3 linked regions of the Homo sapiens genome follow. The protein of the gene in region 1 interacts with the protein of each later gene in a pairwise test. Each region holds a gene or a part of one and is shown in the gene's direction. Other genes may lie near its edges.

Region 1 (3,513 bases):
ATAACATTTTTATCCAGGATTTTAGTTAATTTTCAACAGGTGGATTAGTTCTTGCTGTATTCTCGTAAACAGAAGTCCTGGTTTATTTTTATTTGTTTTAAACATTGAATCCCATACTCCTCCCCACCTTACCCTACCCAGAATTTAGACTGTTAATGTTTTGAAGCCACAGCCTGCATCTTAATCACTATTTTATCTTAGTGCCTGGTCTTAGAAATTATATTGACTCTTTGATAGACCATATATAAGGCAGGTGGATGAGAATGTGGGTAGCTAGTTGGAAAAGGCTGCTTGGTCATTTGCTTGATTATTTTCTCACACAGTTTTTCCTTTACTAAGAGAAAATGCCCCCATATTGGCAAACAAAATCTCCCTGCCTGAGAGCGCCCAGAGTATAGCAGAGCATCTTACCCTGATACGCCTCTTTTCACTCTCTTCTCTGTGGAGACAGAAGGAGCTTCAAGAGCAGGGGGAGATCAGAATCGTCCAGCTGGGCTTCGACTTGGATGCCCATGGAATTATCTTCACTGAGGACTACAGGACCAGAGTATGTGACTGTGTGCGTCAGGGGTGCTGGGGGGAGGGCACAGGTTGGGGGAGACAGGGAACTTGGGAAACAGAAATAAAAACAAAAGAAAGAATTTCCCTGCCCCCACATCCCATGGAGAGGGCACAGGGCCCTGGTAAATAGTAATATGAGGGAGAGAGACAGGAGGGAAAGAGGGAGGAGTGAGAGGGTAAAGAGGGGGGGAGAGGAGGGGGAGGAGGAGGAAGGAAGGAGGGGGAGGAGGAGGGGGGGAGGAAGAGGGGGAGGAGGATGAAGAGGAGGAGGAAGAAGAAGGGTATGAGAGGTGGAAGGATCTGAGCAAGAGGTAAGACAGGAAGAGAAATGCTGTCCTGGGGGTGGAGGTTGGTAGAGAGTGAGGGTGGGGATGGACCATGTCTCTCATCTCTGCTTGTAGGTCCTCAAGGCCTGTGATGGCCGACCGTATGCTGGGGCAGTGCAGAAATTTCTAGCTTCAGTACTTCCAGCCTGTGGGGACCTTAGTTTCCAGCAGGACCAAATGACACAGACCTTTGGCTTCAGGGACTCAGAAATCACGTGAGACTTGTGGAACCAACCAAAGTCAGGCATCTGGTGCTTCCCTGCCTCCCTCCAGTTCCATCCAGCCTGTCCTCCTGTTTTTTTGGTGAACCTGCCAGAAAAGCTGCCAAAAAGCTGACTCTTCTTGTTAATAAAATGACCCAAGTTTGTATTCCTCCCCACAAGAGAGGAGGCCTATCTTACCTGGGCCTTAGAAAGAGCCCTGAAATAGAATTCAGTTCTTGGTGGCTTATCAAAAGCACACAGGGGCCTGGCAGGAAGTGTAAAAGCTTGATGTTAATCATACTGGGACTAAGAGGATAGAGAATGGTAGGAGCTGGGATACCCCTAAACATTCACATTAAAACAAAAAAAACCCAAAGCTAAAAAACAACTGGGCAGGAGCTAAATAAAAATCTAATTTTGAGAGGCTGTATCTGGCTCAGGCCTCCTACTTTGTAACCCATGGAATATGTGAAAGCATTTGAAAAACTATAGCACTGATCTCACATGGGCAGACACACTCTCAGAGAGATGTGGTGGGAGCCATGGCGCAGTCTGCCTAGGCAGTGGCAGGAGCGCAGAAGACTCTGATTCCTCTCCTCGGTCCTAAGACCGAATGTGTGTCAGGACATGTGGTCAGGGAAGAGAAGCTATTTAACTGAACCAGTAATAGTAGCAGGAAAAGAAAAAGTGGAGGGAGGGCAGTCCAGGTAGGGGGCCTGGAACAAGCAACTGCACCAACAGAGGCAGTTGGTGCGAGCACAGAACCACCCCAGGCTGGGATTTTGTTATCCAGTCTCTCTTGCATGGTTGCCCGTGTTTCTGGAGACTTGTGTAAACATTAATGGATGAGGAGGAGAGATGGTTCTCAGAGCCCAGCCCTCATCTCTGCTGGCTTCCCACTGCCCTCAGGCATCTGGTGAATGCTGGAGTCCTCACCGTCCGAGATGCTGGGAGCTGGTGGCTAGCTGTGCCTGGAGCTGGGAGATTCATCAAGTACTTTGTTAAAGGTATCCCATCTGCAGCTCAAGCCTGCAGCCCCTCACCTTTTGGTGGCTCCTCAGGCCTCTAGGCCTTATTCACCTTTCCCCTTTCCTGTGCCACTTCTCCTCTAGGGCGCCAGGCTGTCCTTAGCATGGTCCGGAAGGCAAAGTACCGGGAACTGCTCCTATCAGAGCTCCTGGGCCGGCGGGCGCCTGTCGTGGTGCGGCTTGGCCTCACCTACCATGTGCACGACCTCATTGGGGCCCAGCTAGTGGACTGGTGAGTCTTTCCCTGGCCTCTGGCAGATTATGGAGCAATGACCCAAAGTGGGATTTCCTCCCAGCTCATGCTTAGTTTCCTAGTGAAGGCCAGTGGCTCTCATTCTTCTCTGGAACCCGGGAGCACCCCTTCCCAAGTTCTAAGTTCTCCTCACAGCTTGAGCCTAGGCGTCTGGCTCCAGCCTTGTCTTTCTCCTGCACAGCATCTCTACCACTTCAGGAACCCTCCTCCGCCTGCCAGAGACATGAAGATTCTGCTCATCATTGCTCAGCTCCTCAGAGTGGGCCGGGAGGGGACTAGAAGAGCTGCATGATGGTGGCTGAGACAGGGTCACCTTGGGAAGGCTTGGGAGCCAGGATGAGTGTCGGGCTCTCGTGTGTGCAAAAGGTCAGATGTGACTGCTGCTGTTTGCCTGGTTTCTGACCCAGTGGTGGGGTTTGAGCAATGCTTCTCTGCCCTTCCATGGAAAGTGGAACCAGAAATGGTGCCAAGGCTGTGGCTGTTCCCTTTCGTGTAAAATGGTGCTGTTATTACTCTGTCTTGAAATAGGAAGGTGGGATTTCTGGGGAGGCTGGTGAAGGAGGGCAGGGTTCTTTTCTCTACGTGTCATGTTAAAATTGCCAAATAAAGTACCTCTGCCTGTGATATTTTCTGGATGTCCTTTATTTACTGTGACGTGTGTTTGGGTGCCTTGTTTAGGGGTAGAGGTGAAGTCTGAGCTTTGCCTCATTCAGAGAGGAAAGGGGTCAGGGGTTCACTCTGACGTTCAGGCCATTCTCCCTGTGGAGTGGTGAGGGTGTACCTAATCTCCTAAACCACGGAATTTCTGTTAGGGCCTAAAAAAGCAAAAGCCTAGTATAGTTCAATTTGTGTTGGAATGAAAGTAAGAGACAAGTGTCTTAGAAGCCTGTCATTGTTTTGTGAGGGCCTTTAAATATCCTGTACTCGTGGGCCATGTTGGGCCCTTGTACGCCCAGGTATACATGAGCTTGTGTGCACCTATACCCTGATACAGATATACCTGGTAGGGGGAGGTGCTCAGGCACTGGAATGAGAGGAGTTAACGGGGAAGGACAGGGTTATTTCTGGGCCAAGATTCAGAGTTTCCCATGGACACCCAGGTGTCCGGGGTGCCCCCACAACTCTGGGCCTGAGGCCAGTTG
Region 2 (3,721 bases), on another chromosome or scaffold:
GTCTTGCATACCTTTCTTTCCTTTGACATTCAGAGTATCTTGCACATATATGATCAGAAATATCTTTAGAGTTCGTTAAAGGCAAGAGTGGTGTGGAAGGCGACAGGTCAAGGTGCATACAGGATCTCATTTAACCTAATCAACAACTATGTGATGTACATATTGCCTCCATTTTTAGAGGAGGAAACAGAGGCTTGTGGAGATTAAATAACTTGTCCAAAGTTACACAGCTAAATTGAGAGGGTACTGAAGTTTCAGCCTTGTCTTCTTTACTCCAAAGGCCGAACGTCCTCTGCCAAACTCCTCTATATCTCTGCAAACACATACTAAGCACCTGCTTTGTGCAAAATACTGTGCTACGGTTTGAGGGTAGACCAAGGCCTGAGATGTGGCCTGCTAAATGAAAGAGAAATTTTGGTTTTGGTCTCTAGGATAGCCCTGTCCCATCTGCAGATTTTGTACATAACCCCAAAGGAAGAAGGAGGGAATTTCACATGCAGTCAGGCAAGTGCTTAATAGAATGCATGGTAGACCGTAAGGGATGCAGTAGAGATTTCAACAGATTGCTGGAGGAGCACGGTGCATTAGTTGTGATGGGAAAGGTGTCTTACAGAAAGAAGAGTAGAGACAAAGCCTTGGAGGAAGTGTAGGGTTTTAATAAGTGGAGAAGTATAGGAAAGGTCTTCCAGGCTAAGGGAACCCCGTTCAAACATTCAAGGTGTATTTCATTCCCAGTCACCTTTTTCTTTTGGGGAGCAGAACAGGGCAGTGGTTACAAATATGGGCTTTGGAAGGCTGCTACCTGTGTTCTGTAACTTACTAACTTTGGGAACCTGGGCAAATTACTTAAATATTCTGAACTTTGGTTTCCTCATCTATAAAATGGGGATAATCATAGCATCCACCTTAAAGAATGATGGGTAGGCAGGAATGAGCCTACTCTTATAAAATGCCTTGCACACAGGAAGGACTAAATAATCTTAGTTTCACGGTAATGCTGCTGCTACAGCTTCTGCTACATTTGGGGGCTGCAAATATTCTGCGTGACCCAAGCATTTGATTCATGGAAGAATTAGTCTACAAAGGAAGGGATATGATGGTGGAAAGCCTATGGTCTCGTGCGTATCTATCACTGGATTTAACTTTCCATTTCTTTACATTATTAGCCCCTGAAAGACAGAGATGATGCCAGTTTTTGTTTTGTTGAAATTTTTCTAACTGATGATTGGATTTCATGCAATTCTGGAATTAAAGGTCTGACTTCTTGTTTTCTGGAAGGAAGTCCTCAGCCTTTTCTTCTCAGTAACACTCATTGGGAATGACATACACATAGTCTGCATGGTCATGGGTGTGATCAGGCCTGTGTGACATTCCTGGCATGCTACTTAGCACCACCACTCTGTCTCCATTGCAAGGAAGCGTATCGGAATGCAAGTGAGTCAGAGTGATATTATTATAGGGGATAACCTTAAATCCCCATAATTTATATTTGAAGCAGTAAATTATTCATGAACTTGAGCTATTAATAGCAGCAAATGACTTGTGGGGCAACAATGAACCTGATGCTGTGGTTAAGGAGGAGGAGGGGAAAGCAGCCCAAGATGGGACAAGGACCTTGACAGCATGGAGACATGCCTGGGAAGAGCAAGGCCCAAACAACATTTGTTTCCATGTTTTGCCATGAACTAAGTTTGGTGACAAGGTTGCCTCAAGGCTGCCTTGAAGCTGCAACTGGTATCTTGCTGGCTTCCTAAAGTTTGAGAGGCAGTAAAGGATTTCCAGGGTTGGGCTTGCAATGGGTGTCTACTTGTGTTAGAGCCTCCTTCTTTAGATCACTGTACAGCTGCCCCAACCCCACTGCCTGCTTTTCCACACCCTGAAATGAACTTCTTGCTGTATCTGTCTAGGGTGTGGCCAGAATAAGTGGAGAGAAACAGTCTGGGGGTTCTGTGTTGTCACACCATGAGGGTGACAAGAGGTGTCTGGCACTAAGCCTGGAAACCCCCAGCACAAATCACTTCTGGGGCTACCAAATAGCACGGTGATGCTGTGTGGGTAAGAACTTATTGCAGGAAGTGTAGCCAGAGATGTGGGGAGGGACAAGGCTGCCCGCCACCTAGAGAAAGAGGCTTCTGCTCAGGTCCCACAGCAGGAGCATCACTGTCTGGCCCTTGCTGCATGACCCTTTGTGCTTGTTAGATGCCAGAACAGTTGCTGATGCCTAAATACATGGAGACCTAGGACTCCTTATTTCATGAGTCTTGACTTTAAATTGAAGGCATTTTTAGGTTCAGGAAGAGGATAAAGGGTAGGCCGTACTTCTGGTACATCAGTACTTAAGGGTGTGGCAAAGTGTGATGGAAAGAAGTGTTGGAGAGCCTGTCTAATTCTACATCTAACTGCCGGTGTGATGTTAGGAAAGCTGCCTTGTCACTCTGGTCCTCCATAAAGTCACACCAGACGAGGCAATTTCTGAGGTCTCTTCCATTTCTAAGATCCTGAATCTAAGTTGCAGCAGAAGTGATGGAGGAAGAAAATTAAAACTGGAATTTGTGGTTCTAGGTCTCAAAAAGCATTATCTTATTCTGACTTTCACCTTTGGTAATCAAAACAGGTCATAAGGGTGAACTAATAACCTGTGTAACAAGTGAGAGATTATAGTTGTTTTCCAGGAGTGCGTGATCTTGTCCTGCTCGGTAAGAATTTCACCATCAAATGAGGGCACAATTTGTAGAATAGATTTACAATGAAGTACTTTTTCCAATAGGCTACTCTTCACGTGTGTTATGTGCATACATACACACATGTACATACATACACACATGCACACACACTCTTAAGCTTCTATTTAAAAATGATTTGATGGTGATGAATTTTTCATTAGTTTATTAACTCAGGAATCAAAATATACATACATATATATATATATATATATATATATATATGTATAGTCACTGCTATGTTACTAACATTCAAGTTCTATGGAATTACATCCGTGGGGCTGGCAGATTCAGGAGGCTAGTCTTGGCCTTCAACACGTTCTGAGAACTTAACTATTAGAGAATACTATTTCTCAACCACTCTGCCTGCAATGTTCTATCTAATTAACACTTTTATTACTTTTCTCCACTGTACCTGCTCAGACTTCAGGTCCCTGAAGTGGCCTAATGTTCCCTATTCTACCACTAGCTTTATCCGTTCTTTATTCCGGCTGGAAGATATAGCCCACTGCTGAAACCCTCTGTTGCTTTTTTATCTTTATCCATCTCTTGCCCAGCAAACTCCAATCTTAGCACCTCAACTCTTACCTTTGGAGGGCTAAGAGGTGGTGGAGCAGATCTCACTAACTGAACTTACTGATATCCCACAGCCTCAGGGACTCAGCCTCAGCCAAGTCTTGACACTGTCTGGTTATCTTTACTCATGCACCTAAACAGTCTCTCATTCCTTATAGCAGCTATCTCAGCAGTCTATCGCCTGAAATCTCTTGCCTTCCACTTCACTCTTAGCTCATTAACATCTCCCACTCTATAAAGAACATAGACGTCAGACTGGAAATCTCTCTGATTTTCACTGCCCCCTACCCTTTTATCTGTATCTGCATGCACCCTTTTCCCCTTCTTTCTTTCTGCCACACCAAGATGAATTCCTCACTCAGGCCTCTGGATGTGCATGACTCCTTTTGGGTGGGAAATCCTTACAAACTGGTTTTGCTCTCTGC
Region 3 (4,016 bases), on another chromosome or scaffold:
AAAACAGGTATTGTGGACAGTGTTTCCACCTCTTGAATTTAACTTCTTTCTTGGCAACTATACTTGAAGGTAACAGGGAGAGATGTCTCTTAGTTGGCAAAACACACACTTAAAACCTGAGCATTTTCCCCCAGGATGACAGCAAGATACCAAGGATGCCAAAGAAGGAAGGAGTGTTAACCTAATCCAGTAAGAGAAACAAGATTTTAAAATACAACAAAAATGTTCCAATGGGGGAAAAAAGGTAGTTCACCGGTTCACGACTTTAAAAAACGTTGGCAGTGGTTGATGGGCTTATTTCAGGAGATATCTGACTTGGTACCAAGAGGATAAAGAGGCCGGGAATAATACGTTTGTGCAGCAAAATGGTTATGTGACCGATTTTTTAAAACACAGAATTCTGCCCCACTGAATACATACACATACCACAAGTAAAATGAAATATACTTTTAAGTGCCCGTTTTGGTGCCACTGGCCAAAATTAAAACTCTCCTTCCGTATGTGAGGTGACTTGAGATTTCTTTTTTGCTTTAAATGCCTGCCTTCAGGGTACGTGAAAGTGGGAGACCGGTTGGAAAACTGGGGCTAAGGGGGCTGGGAGCGAGATGGCTGTGACTGAATCAGGAAGCTGGATGTGAGAGAGAAAAATCCTCCTCCAGCCTCGGAGGGGGTGTCTCCCCTAATACCAGCTCCCTCCCCCCGGGCTCGTGGGGCGGGTCTGGTTTGCTCAGTAGCGGCAGCGGCCGCAGCAGCAGCCCCGGGGCTGAGCAGCGGTGGCCTCCTGGCAGCGCAGGGAAGCGGCGGCTCCAAGAGCGCGAGGCCCTGGGGAGATCCGGCCAAGACTGCTGCCGGGATGGAGGAAGCGTCCAGTGGAGCAGGAGTCACCGGGGACGAATTTCCTCCCCAGCTCAGCTCCCCTACAGCTTGGCTAGGCCTGCTCCGAGCGCCTGCAAGGTGGAGGAGGCCTGCGCCTCGGGCCTGGCAGCGGCAGCCGGCGAGGGAGGCGGGCACAGCGGGGTAACCGGCGAGCCGTAGCCGCTCTCGAAAACCTACGCTGCCACGGCCGCTCATTGTCTCTCCCCTTCCACCCGGGGGCAAACAGGAAGCGCGCCGCCTGGCAGACCGACGGACAGGCGCCTGGACCAATGAGCACAGCCGACAAAGAGCACGGCGGCGAATGAGAGCCAAGAAGAGGGGCGGGAGTTCCGGGCGGGCTGTCACCCTCTTCCCCCCTTTTGGGCTGGAGGCTCCACCTTTTGTGTTTCCCGCACAGTCAATCAAAATAGGAAAAAAAAATCCCCGGACCGCTCCGGCCGTGTCCGCCGCCGCTTCCCGCATCCTCTCCCGCCGCCGCCGCCTTCGCTCCTCACCATGTGTAAGGCGGCGGGGAGCCCCGCCTGAGGTGCCCTAAACACACTATGACCGGTACGTAAAGCCGAGAGAGCAACCCTTGCTGCTGCCGCCGCCGCCGCTGCCGCCGACCACAGCCAGCCCGGGGCCGCTGCCGCCGGTCTCGGCCCCGTGTGTGCGACCGAGTGTCTGTGAGAGGCAGAAAGCTGCACTCCCCTGCGCCTCCCTCCCCTCCCCGCCAGCCACCGTCCACCCCCGAAGCCCCAGCAACGCCGTCTCCCCGCCAGGCCCCGGGGCGGGCGGCCCGGTCCGCCGGGAGCGCATCCCCCTGTGTGCGGGCGCGGGCGGGCGTGTGTGAGTGACTGACGGTGCGAGAGGAGCGAGCGCGAGTGAGAGCGAGCGGCGCGAAGGGAAAGGGGAGGAGAGGAGAGGGGGCAGGGGCAGCGCGGGGAGGAGGAGGAGGAGGGAAAGAGGAGGAGGAGGAGGGTTACAGGCAGCGGCGGGCGGGGGCAGCAGCAGGAGGGGAGGAGGGAGCCGCCGCCGCCGCCGCCGCCGGGGGGCGGGTGGGGGAGGGGAAGGGGCCTGGGTCCGGGCTTTGGGAGTAATTTCGCTTCGGCCCGCGGGCCCCCTCCCTCTCCGCCACCCGCCTTCCTCCCCACCCCCACCCCCCCGCGCTGTGCCTGCAGCTCCCGAAAAGCCCGTGAAACAAGAGGAAATGGCTGCCTTGGACGTGGATAGCGGCGGCGGCGGTGGCGGCGGCGGCGGCCACGGCGAGTATCTGCAGCAGCAGCAACAGCACGGAAACGGTGCGGTGGCGGCGGCAGCGGCGGCCCAGGTGAGGAGCGGCTGAACCCCGGCCCGGCTCCCCCCTCGCGCCGCTTTCTCCTCCCCTCGCCTCTCCCCTCCCTCCTCGCCTCACCCCTCCCTCCTCGTCTCTCCCCTCCCCTCCACTCCCCTCCCCCCGCCCCGGGAGCTGCCCGCCCGAGGCGCCAACGCTCCGACCCCGCCCGCGCCGCCCCGCCTCGCCCGCCTGCCGCCTTTTTGTGCGCGTGTGAGTGTGGGCCCCAGCGTGCCCTCCCGGGGGTGGGTTCCGGGCGGAAGGCGGAGGCCCGGCGCGCAGCCCGCCGCCCGCCTGCCCGCGGACCGGGGAGCCGGGGTGCTTGGAGCGGGGGACGCCAGGCGTGGGCTGGCGGCGGGACCAGGAGGAGGAGGAGGAGGAGGAGGAGAGCGCGGGCTGGCGCTTGCCCGGGCGCAGTCGGCGGGGACCGAGTCGTACTTCCTGTGCGAAAGGCGGCCCGACCCTAACCGCCACCCCCTCCCCCTGTCTCCCTCTCTGAACCCGCCCATTGGGGGTAGGACACTCAGCCGTCACCGCTCGCTCTGCTGGCCGCTACCTGCAGCAAGATAGGGCCGCCATCGCCGGGCGACGACGAGGAGGAGGCGGCCGCCGCAGCCGGGGCCCCCGCCGCCGCCGGAGCGGTAAGTCCCGCGCGCGGCCCGCCCCCGCCGAGGCCGGGCGCCCGCCATCCCGGACCCGTGGCGCGCCTGCCCAAAAGGCCTCCCCGGCGCCCGCGCTTCCCCCGACCCGCACGGGCCGCTGGGCTCCAGGGCGCCCTTTCCTGCTCTTTCGCATCCCGGTTTGGATCTGAAGCCAGCCCAGGCTTTCTCGAAATTGTCACTGCAGCACCTCGCGCAAAATCTTCACAAAATGAAGTCTGAGAGGGCGGGGGTAGAGGACTCCAAAATGGATGTTTGAGCAATTCATATCAGTGCTGAAAACTCCTTCGCTTAACACTACAAAATTTTCAAGCACAGCCTATCGGCCATAGATAGTATCAACTAGAGGCAATGTCTTTAGTTTTTATTATTTTTGAACCTGGAGCATTTTCTGTTGGACGTTACAGGATCTTACTGCTTTAAATCATACATTATTAAAAAAAATGAGGGTTTATTCTTTGAATTACCCTTTTGTATGCAGGAGTGAAGACTGCTTTTTTAGTTGACCATTCAAAATCGTTGAATTTTAGTTTTTGCAGACTACTAAAATTTGCAGTGACTTTTTTTTTGTAAGGGGGGTAAATGAAACATTTAGCAGCCTTTGAAATCAGCAAGTTGCTTAGATAGTACTTTAGATTTTGAAACTGAATATAACAGTGTTAGAAAAGTATGTGTAAGGAATTGTATTTACGTGCATACTAGTAGTACAATACTTATAGCTGAATTTGGTTGGCAAAAGTATGTTTTCATTTTATTACGACTGCTAGTCAGGTAAGATATGGTGGGATTCTTTCTGTAGTGTTTTCAGTGTCTGGGCAAGGGGAGGAGCTCGCCTGTGTTATATGAGGGGTTAATACCAATAGGATAGGAACAGTTTTTAGACTGTTAATTGTGAATTTTACATTTGGGTCATCACTGTTGTGTAGATTTGTTCACCTATTAAAATAATGAAAACCCTCATTTGAGTGTGTGTGTGTGGTGGATCATAGGAATTGATTTGTGGAGTGATACTTTCAATAGTCACTGAAGACAGAAGTTTGGTATTTGGTATAGTCTACAACAAATGCTTAGTATGTCCAGGTATTTTTTTTTTTTAAGTTAAACCAATGTTAAGCTATTACTGGTAAATAATTTGTAATTTTAGTGCTTCGTTATAGGGGATGTGAATA

Evidence for each region.
Region 2: the proteins of WHR1 (region 1) and MAB21L3 interact in a two-hybrid assay, tested with the Homo sapiens proteins (one large-scale study listed by BioGRID).
Region 3: the proteins of WHR1 (region 1) and SP3 interact in a two-hybrid assay, tested with the Homo sapiens proteins (one study listed by BioGRID and IntAct).

Annotation. Positions count from the first base shown.
Region 1 is NC_000006.12:31,978,452-31,981,964, forward strand, and holds the end of WHR1 (winged helix repair factor 1), read left to right. Parts: intron 1-451; coding exon 452-547; coding exon of another isoform or gene 548-559; intron 560-962; coding exon 963-1,102; intron 1,103-1,999; coding exon 2,000-2,097; intron 2,098-2,202; coding exon 2,203-2,350; intron 2,351-2,552; coding exon 2,553-2,598; 3' UTR 2,599-2,995; downstream 2,996-3,513. UniProt on the Homo sapiens protein: DNA-binding protein which is required for efficient transcription-coupled nucleotide excision repair (TC-NER). Acts as part of a TC-NER complex which assembles and interacts with RNA polymerase II (RNAPII) when it stalls at DNA lesions.
Region 2 is NC_000001.11:116,114,248-116,117,968, forward strand, and holds part of MAB21L3 (protein mab-21-like 3), read left to right. Parts: intron 1-3,721.
Region 3 is NC_000002.12:173,962,574-173,966,589, reverse strand, and holds the start of SP3 (transcription factor Sp3), read left to right. Parts: upstream 1-1,216; 5' UTR 1,217-1,418; coding exon 1,419-1,425; intron 1,426-2,036; coding exon 2,037-2,185; intron 2,186-2,706; coding exon 2,707-2,829; intron 2,830-4,016. UniProt on the Homo sapiens protein: Transcriptional factor that can act as an activator or repressor depending on isoform and/or post-translational modifications. Binds to GT and GC boxes promoter elements. Competes with SP1 for the GC-box promoters.